Linked DNA regions of Homo sapiens: region 1 is linked to region 2. Evidence: fine-mapped expression QTL. A gene starts in region 2. The other region holds a variant in brackets. All regions are shown on one strand. Distances are between the middles of the regions.

Evidence for each region. PIP is the estimated chance that this variant, and not a neighbour inherited with it, causes the effect. A credible set is the group of variants that fine-mapping cannot tell apart.
Region 1: its variant is the best candidate, but not a certain one, in a credible set for the expression of LINC02761 in breast (GTEx, PIP 0.65).

The regions. Positions count from the first base shown.
Region 1 is chr11:76,197,666-76,201,665 of GRCh38, reverse strand. All of the region lies in intron 1 of WNT11 (Wnt family member 11), which reads left to right. Among named protein-coding and RNA genes, the nearest start is that of WNT11, 6.8 kb to the left of the region's middle. The variant C/T (reference allele first, on the strand shown) is at 1,538.
Region 2 is chr11:76,214,139-76,218,652 of GRCh38, reverse strand. LINC02761 (long intergenic non-protein coding RNA 2761) reads left to right here and starts at 2,563. Exons shown (of 3, transcript XR_007062785.1): 1 at 2,563-2,666; 2 at 3,361-3,428.

The DNA.
Region 1 (4,000 bases), 17 kb after region 2:
TCCCAGCAAGGCCCCCAACTCCTGAATGAGAGGAGGCCTTGCCACCCCGGTAGGGCCCTGAGCTCGGGCCTCGCCTGTGAACTCTGCATTCCCTCCTGTCCTTTCTTCCACCCTCTCCCCCAGGCCCCCACCCCCAGATAAACCGAAATGTTTCCAATTAGGGGTCTGTTGGAGTGAAGCGAGCAAGATGTCCACAAGGAGAACTCCCCCACCTCCCATCCTAATCCTTGATTACCTCCCCAAGGGGGATTTATTTGGAAACGGTCATTACCACTAATTACCAGATGACCGCATGGCCCTCCTCGGGAGTGGAATCTGCTGCCTCCCGCCTGTGATCTCTGCCTGCAGCCCCTGTGGGCGGGTGGCCTCCCTAGTACGCATGGCAGCCTGCTCCTGTCCCAGCGTCAGCCTCCAAGGCGGGCCCCTGGGCCTTCACACTGCTCTGGGCCCACCAGGGCCTCTGGATCTGTTTCTCATTTACCCTTGGGCCGCCTGGGGAGTCTGAGCCTCGTCTGGAAGGTGCTCTGACAGCACCTTCTCCCTGAGCCTTCTGGGGAGGATGGAAAGACTGAGACCCAGGGTAGCTCCAGGGCTCACCCCAGGGTCCCAGCCTAGGAGACCCAGGCACCAGGAGCACCAGGCTCCCTTCCTTTAGAGCTGCAGCACCCAGCACTCACAAGCTGTCTGCACTGAGCTCCCCAGGAAGAGGCTCAGCCCCCATCGTCCCACCCCGTGGCTTGAGCCGGAGCCCAGGGAAAGACACAGGAGGCTGCCTTCACTGCCTGAACGCCCACCATGTGCCATGAGCCTGCTGCTAGGCCATGCGCTGATGTGCTGTCGCCCACGTTGTCCTTCTCATTTGAAAATGGAGGAAGCTGGCTCAGAAGGAGCGGGAAGAAAGTTGGGCGAGGGCAAGCGGCAGAGCAGGCTCAGGACGGGCTGGGTGGGGACCGCTCAGAGCAAAGCAGAGTGGGGACCCAGAGAGAAGTGACCCCAGTGCCTGCAGGGACTGACAGCCTCACCAAGAAGGATGACGGGGCCTGCTGGCGGGTGCTGGACAAGCACAGCCCCTAAAGCAGGGCTGATCATCCCCTCCGGGCTGCCCTCTGAGGTGTGAAGTGGGAGGCTCTGTCAACCGGGAAGGGCCATGCCCATATGGAGCTGTTTACCCCATGACGGCACTGCACGCAGGGACAGGGTTTGCTGGGTGGAGGTGGAAGAGCTGTTGACAACCGGGAAACACACTGAGGTGATGACGTTTGCCTCTGTGTGGTCAGAGCCCACCCAGGAAGTAAGGCAGGGTTCAGCAACAGGTTCCCCAAGAAGGTGAGGCCAGGGCAGGCCAGAACAGTTCCATTTAGGTCAAGAAACCGCGTCTGAGGGATGCTGTGTGGCCCACCCTGTGCCGGATGCTGGCATCTAGACACACCAGACATTTCCCGACTCATAGTTTAGGGGGTGGCAGTGAGGGGAGACTGCCCTGGACACCACAGTTGATCTTACACAGGGCGAGTCACGCCGCCCTAACCACAGACAC[C/T]AGGCCCTGCTTTCTGGGTCTCTGGGAAGGTTTCTATCTTTGGGGGTTATAGGGTGGGTGGGACATGGCAGAGCGTGAGAGGCAGGAGGAAATGAAAGAACCTATTGAGTACTTACCGTAGCACATATCATTCAGCCTTGGCAGGACCCTGAGAGGTCCTCACGTTGTAGTTGATGCCCAGAGAGGGGCAATAGTTTGCCCAAGTTTGCACAGCACATAGAGGACAGAGCTTGAGTGAGAACCCAGGCCTTCTCACTCCGTCTGGTCCAATACTTGCTGGGCAACAAGCGGGGGACTTAGCTTCATCTATGAATTTTTTGTTTGTTTGTTTTGTTTTTTGAGATGGAGCCTCACTCTATCGCCAGGCTGGAGTGCAGTGTCACAATCTTGGCTCACTGCAATCTCTGCCTCCCAGGTCCTGCCTCAGCCTCTCAAGTAACTGGGACTACAGGCGCGCACCACCACGCCCAGCTAATTTTTTGTATTTTAGTAGAGACGGGGTTTCACCATATTGGCCAGAATGGTCTTGATCTTCTGACCTCATGATTTGCCCGCCTCAGCCTCCCAAATTGCTGGGATTACACATCTATGAATGTTTTAAACACTTTGCCTACGTTCTGTTATTTAAGTCTCACCATAGCCTTTTTTTTTTTTAAGTAGACAAGGTTTCACTGTGTCACCCAGACTGGAGTGCAGCAGTGTAATCATAGTTCACTGTAACCTCAAACCCCCGGGCTCAAGTGATCCTCTCAAGTAGTTCAGACTATAGGCATGCACCACAACACCCGGCTAATTTTTTTACTTTTTGGTAGAGACGGCTCTCACTATGTTGCCCAGGGTGGTCTTAAACTCCTGGCCTCAAAGGATCCTCCTACTTTGGCCTCAGAGTAGCTGAGATCATAGACATGAGCAACAACCCCCAGCCTCATCATAGCCTTTTGAAGTAGTAATTATTTCTATTTTATTTTATTTTAATTTATTTTATTTTATTTTTTTGAGACAGAGTCTCGTTCTATCGCCCAGGCTGGAGTGCAGTGGTGCAATCTCGGCTCACTGAAACCTCTGCCTCCTGGGTTCAAGCAATTCTGCCTCAGCCTCCTGAGCAGCTGGGATTACAGGCATGCGCCACCATGCCTGGCTAATTTTTGTATTTTTTGAGTAGATACAGGGTTTCACCACGTTAACCAGGCTGGTGTCAAACTCCTGACCTCAGATGATCTGCCCGCCTTGGCCTCCCAAAGTGCTGGGATATTACAGGTGTAAGCCACCGCGCCTGGCCTTATCATTTCTTTGTAACAGATGAGGAACATGAAGCCCAGAGAGGTTGGATAACTTACCTAGGTCACACAGCTGGTGTCCAAGGCTTGTGCTCTTCCTGGGGCTAGGCCAGGAGTGAGAACAGCTGGGTCATTGATTTATAATGATTGGTAGCTTTATCCAGCCATTAGACTAGGGCATCCTTGAGGAAAGGATCTATGTCATATTCATTACCAAATGAGTCTGGGAAGAGTTGGTGCTTAGTAAATACTTCTTCCACAAGCAGATCAAGTTCATTCATGTCCAGAAGCAGGGGGAAAGGCATTCCTGGCATCAGGAAAAGCTTGGGCAAAGGCATGGTGGCAAGACAGTTCCTTTCAGAGAAGTCAAGAACCTGGTGTAGCTGGATGTCAGGATGAGGATGGGAGGCTGGCGAGAGCTGGGAGGCCAGGCTTTGAGGGGCCCTGAATGTCAAGCAGCAGCCCTTGGCCTTGACTAGGCAGGTCCAGGGAGGCTGCCCACAGGTAGGAAAAGACCACCAAGGTGGTAACTGTAGTAGCTTCCATCACTGACCACTGACCACAGAGTGTCAGCCCTGGGCAGAACGTGTGACACACATTGTCTGATTTAAGCCCTCAGTTAATACTGGGAGGTTGATGGGAGAGGAGAGGTTAAGTGACTTGCTCAAGGTCGCAAGGGGAGTGATATAGCCTGGAGTCTACCCAAGCCTGTGCAGTGCCCTTGGCAATGGGCTGCCTCCCTCAGAACTCAGCCCAGGGGTTCTGGGATCTCTACCTTGCCAGGTCTCAGCCCTGACCCTGGGTGAGGACCGCTGGGTCCACAGCAGGCGGGGCACTCAGCACTTCTGGCTGCAGAATGGCCCCCTCTTGGTTCCCTGTCGCTCCTGGGTCTCTGCTGGGTTGCTGAAGGCCAGCTGACTCTGGGTTCCAGACGGCCTCTGCTGTGGGTGGGGGCACTGAGAGTGAGTCCATGTGGAGTCCTTTAAGGTTGTGGGGTCCTTAAGTGCTGCCGATGCAGGCTGCCCTCAGAGAAGGCCTAGGAGAACGGCAGATCGAGGAGGGGCCTGGTCCTAGAGTCTTGGAACCCAGGTGCCCAGAGCTGGGATCTGGGAGGCTCTTGGGTCCTCTAACATCACCAGGGTTCATAGGGACCCACCAGGCTAACGTTTCCCAAAGCACGGACGAG
Region 2 (4,514 bases):
TGCTGTGTGGTCTTGGGTAAGTCACTTGCCCTCTCTGGGCCTAGGTCTCCCCATCTTAACAACAGAGCTAATCACCTCTGCCCAGCCTCCCTCTCAAGCCAGTGGCAAGTCTCAAAGGAGCCTGCCCATAACTGTGGCAGGGCTTAGAAAACTGGAAAGCTCAACTTGAGGTCTGGGATGGTTAATAAAATGAGCAAACGGACCTTGAGAGGGACTTCTCTGAATCCCCACCAAACAGACAGGTAAGTCAGTTCCCCTCTGGTCTACCCCGCATCCTTCTGGCTACAGATCTAGCCCAGGTCTTCTCCCTCTCACAGTCTGTTCCTGGATTGAAAAGGACAGAAAAAGTGCTCTTCCCAACAGGGCTTGGCACTGAAGATGCAGAGCAGAGGTGCTAGACCAGAGGACTAAGGGCCCTGCTTCCCACAACAGATGTGTCCATGCAGGTGGCTCAGCTGCTGCATTAGTGGCCAGGCTGTCCCTCCCCTCCACTAGCCCAAGTCATTCCTGCTGCTACCCCACTTTCCCCTCATAGGCTTCCAGGAGCTCCATCTCCCCTCACCTCCCCATCCAACCCCAGACCTGCCCCAGACTTGAATCCCAAACCTGACCTTACCCCTTCCCTCTTCAGACCTCCTCCATGTCTCTCTTGGCAAAGCCCAAGCTCCCTAGCCCAGCACTGAAGGCCCTCCGTGGCATGGGCCTGGCTTCCTCTCCCGTTATTCTCCCTCCTGTTGCTCTTCATGCCAGCAGCACCGAACCACCCACTTACCCTTCTCTGAAAGCAAACTTCTTCTTGTCTTTGCTTACACTGTTCCCCTGCTGGGAACGCCCTCCCCCTTCCCCGGCCACCTGACAATTCCTCTCCCACCTGCACATTATTTATATAGACATGAATGCTAAGTACAGATGAGCTCTCCATCTGGAACTGTTTACGTACCTGGCAGAAAAGGAACTAACCTTTATCAAGGACCGATTACGTGCTGAGCATTTTACATACATCATCTCTCCTTTAAGCCCCACAGCAACCCAGGCAATAAATTTCACTCCTCCTATTTTTCAGGTGAGAAAACTGAGGCTCAGAGACATGAAGTGTCTCTTCCAAGGCCAAACAGAAGTTGCTTTCGAGTTGCAACCCCAAACTGTGTGATCCAGAGCCCATGCTTGTTTTAGGGCCAGGTGGAAGCACTTCCCTTAGGGTTATATCTGTGTCCGGGGACACCATGTACATAAAAATACTTGTTATTAAGTGAGGTTGTGCTGCTTTGTAATGCTAGGGACCATCGTGATGTGCCTAAGGCTATCCTATATAAGAGGGGACCCCAGGAAGACAGCCAGGACCCCTGGGGGAATCAGAGGTCTCTGCTCTAGACGGAGGAGGATCTTCTCCAAGACAGAGCCATTCATAATGGAAGACACCATCCTGGAGGGAGTGAGCTCCAATCCCTGGCAACTTTGGAGCAATTACTGTTTGTCCAGCCCTGGTGCAGTACTGGGGACATAGCAGCACATGACAGAGCTATCACTGGCCACATGCTGCCCCAGATCAGTGGAGACATTACAGGGCCTCTGGTGGCCAGCACCTTGGGGTTATGAGAGGGGGTGGCCCAACGGTAAGATTCTAAGATTCTGAAATGACATTAGACAAATAATTGTGTATATATTTAGCTTTTTCACTCTTTAAGCCTGGCTGCTTCTTGTCTCTATTGCTACATAACAAACCATGTCAAGATTTAGTAGTTTAAAGCCATAATTGACTCTCGTGCTTCTGTGGGCTGACCCAGCAGCTCTGCTGACCTTGTTGGGCTCGCTCGCGTGGCTGCATTTGACTGATGGGCCAGCCGATACAGCAAGGCCTCTCTCTGCCCCAGCCTGGGCTTCTGACCTTGCAGCTGGGCTGGGCCCCAACAGGGTGAAGGCAGAAGCTGCAAGGCCCCGAGTCCTGGGCAGCAGAACACAGGCTACATCTACTAGTCAAGCAAGCCATGAGGTCAGCCCAGATGGAGGGGTGGGGACAGAGCCTTCGCTTTTGCATGGAGTCACATTCCAAAGAGTCTTTATGTTCTGGGATGGGAGGAATTGGTGCTACTAAAAAGCTGCCTCACTGGCCTGCTCAGAAAGGCTTCAGAACCAGTGACAAATAACTGCATGGCTTATGCCTGGATGTCAGGAGACCTGATATCTGTCTCCTGCACCACTAACCGAGTGATGTGCGACCCCTCTCTCGGCGTCAGTTTCTCTATGTGTACAGTCGGGGCACTGAGCATGGTAGGTCTCTGGCCCTGTGTGTGCGTGTGATGGGGTGAAACTCAGACAATGCCGCCTCTCTTCTCCCAGGTGCAGAGACGCTGATTTGTACACATATCAGAGAAGCAGAGGCCCAACCATAAAAGAAACTGCCATCCTGACACAAATGCCCCTGTGGCCCACTGCTTCCTATGCCTCCTCTTCTGGTGACAGGCACTGCACCCAGCCATGCCCAGAGCCAGTTTCCCGTGGCAATAACAGATGTCCATCAGAGGGAGAGTGCGTGACTCAAACAAGGCCAATCAGCCGCCTTCCCTGGGACTGATTCAGAGGCCCAAGGAGACAGAGGTCTCATTTGACTGGAATTTCTAACTGGGGCTGTTGGTGGCTGCATCCCAATGGGGAGAAATGAGGCCCGGGTGAGTTCAAAGAGAGGAGGAAGAAGGAGAAGTGAGTTTGAGACAGCACAGCATCTCCAGGGGACCAGCACCAGCCCTGAGCCCTCCTGAGTGCAGTAGGGCCACCAGCCACCCCAGTTTCTCCTGCAGGAACCAGTTTCTCTGGTGTTGAAGCTGGTTGGGGTTGGGTTTCTTCTCTCCTGGAGCTGAAAGAGGCCTGAGAAACACACACATTGTCTCCTGAGCAGCCACCACCATGATTAAACAACTGAGAGTTGAAAGCAGGCTTTCAGATGTGACGCCCTCAGTAGACATGACGGGTGGCATTTTGTTATGTGCACCCAGGAAAGACACCTCCCATCTCTCCGTGGTGCCCCCAGGCCTGCTCCCTGAGCCCTGTAAAATAACAATACCTCCCCTGAGGTAACTGAAGGGGAGGAGGAAGACATACCCTACCCTGGGCAGTGGGCAGAGGTTCCAGAAACCCACAGACCCGGGGTTTGCAGCCAGGCCCACTCACTGACAGAGAGATCTTGTATGAATTACCTGACAGACCTGGCCCAGTGTGCTTATCTGCAGAGCAATGCCTGTCTCAGGCATAGGCACAGAAACTGCCTAGCACACAGTAGGTGCTTGTTCAACCAATATGACTTCTTACAACATTATTTCTCAATAACATCGAGAAGGAGTGGTTTCGTGGCTTTCTGTTTTGCAGATGATGAAACTAAGGATCCCAGAGGCTGAGTGACTTCCCCGGAGTCCCTCGGTGGGTAAGTGGAGGAGGTGAGTCTGACAGCCAGGCCCAGGTGCTCTGATGACAGGCCTGCTGCTATTTTGTCCCCTTACCCCACCCTTGCCTGGAAGATCTGGCCTCACAGGGCATGCCAGAAACAGCTGGGCTGGGTTCCTCTGCTCAGACCCCCTGTTCATGTGTCTTCTCAGAAAGGCCTTTCTAAAAGCACCCTGGTGGTGGAAGCAGTACGCTTTAGTCTCATTGTAACCAATGAGAAATGGGAAATGGTGATGACGGCCTCTGCCCTGCCCTGCCCTCCCTCGAGATGTGTCCAGGACCAGGATGAGGGATCTCAAAAAATGGTTCTGGCCGGTGCAGTGCCTCATGCCTGTAATCCCAGCACTTTGAGAGGTCAAGGTGGGTGGATCACCTGAGGTCAGGAGTTTGAGACCAGCCTGGCCAACATGGTGAAACCCCTGTCTCTACTAAAAATACAAAAATTAGCCGGGTGTGGTGGTGGGCACCTGTAGTCCCAGCTACTTGGAAGGCTGAAGCATGAGAATCGCTTGAACCCAAAAGGTGGAGGTTGCAGTGAGCTGAGACTGCACCATTGCACTCCAGCCTGGGCAACAAGAGCGAAACTCTGTCTCAAAACAAAACAAAACAAAACAAAAATGGTTCTGGGAAGCCAGCATCTGCCAGGTGGCCTGGGGTCGGGAGAGGGAGAGTACCTGTGGTCTTCCTTCATTCACATTCATGGCTCGTCCTATGGCACAGGCTGGTTTGGTGGTGAGAAGAGCATGGCCCAGGGAGTGCTGGTTCCAGGCTAGAAAGAGTCATCTATGGAGCAGGTCCAAACCCAACCAGGAGCCTGGGACCCATGAGTCCAGCCCATGCCAGCTGCCCCCAGCCAACCCGCAGACATGGGAGGGAGAGGCGTGTGCTTGTGGATGATGCCACAGAGACTGTACACAGCAAAAGTGGAGCAAAACACTGTCGCTTTTTTTTTTTTTTTTTTTTTGAGATGAGTCTTGCTCTGTCACCCAGACTAGAGTGCAGTGGTACCATCTTGGCTCACTGCAACCTCTGCTACCCAGGTTCAAGCGATTCTCCTGCTTCAGCCTCCCAAGCAGCTG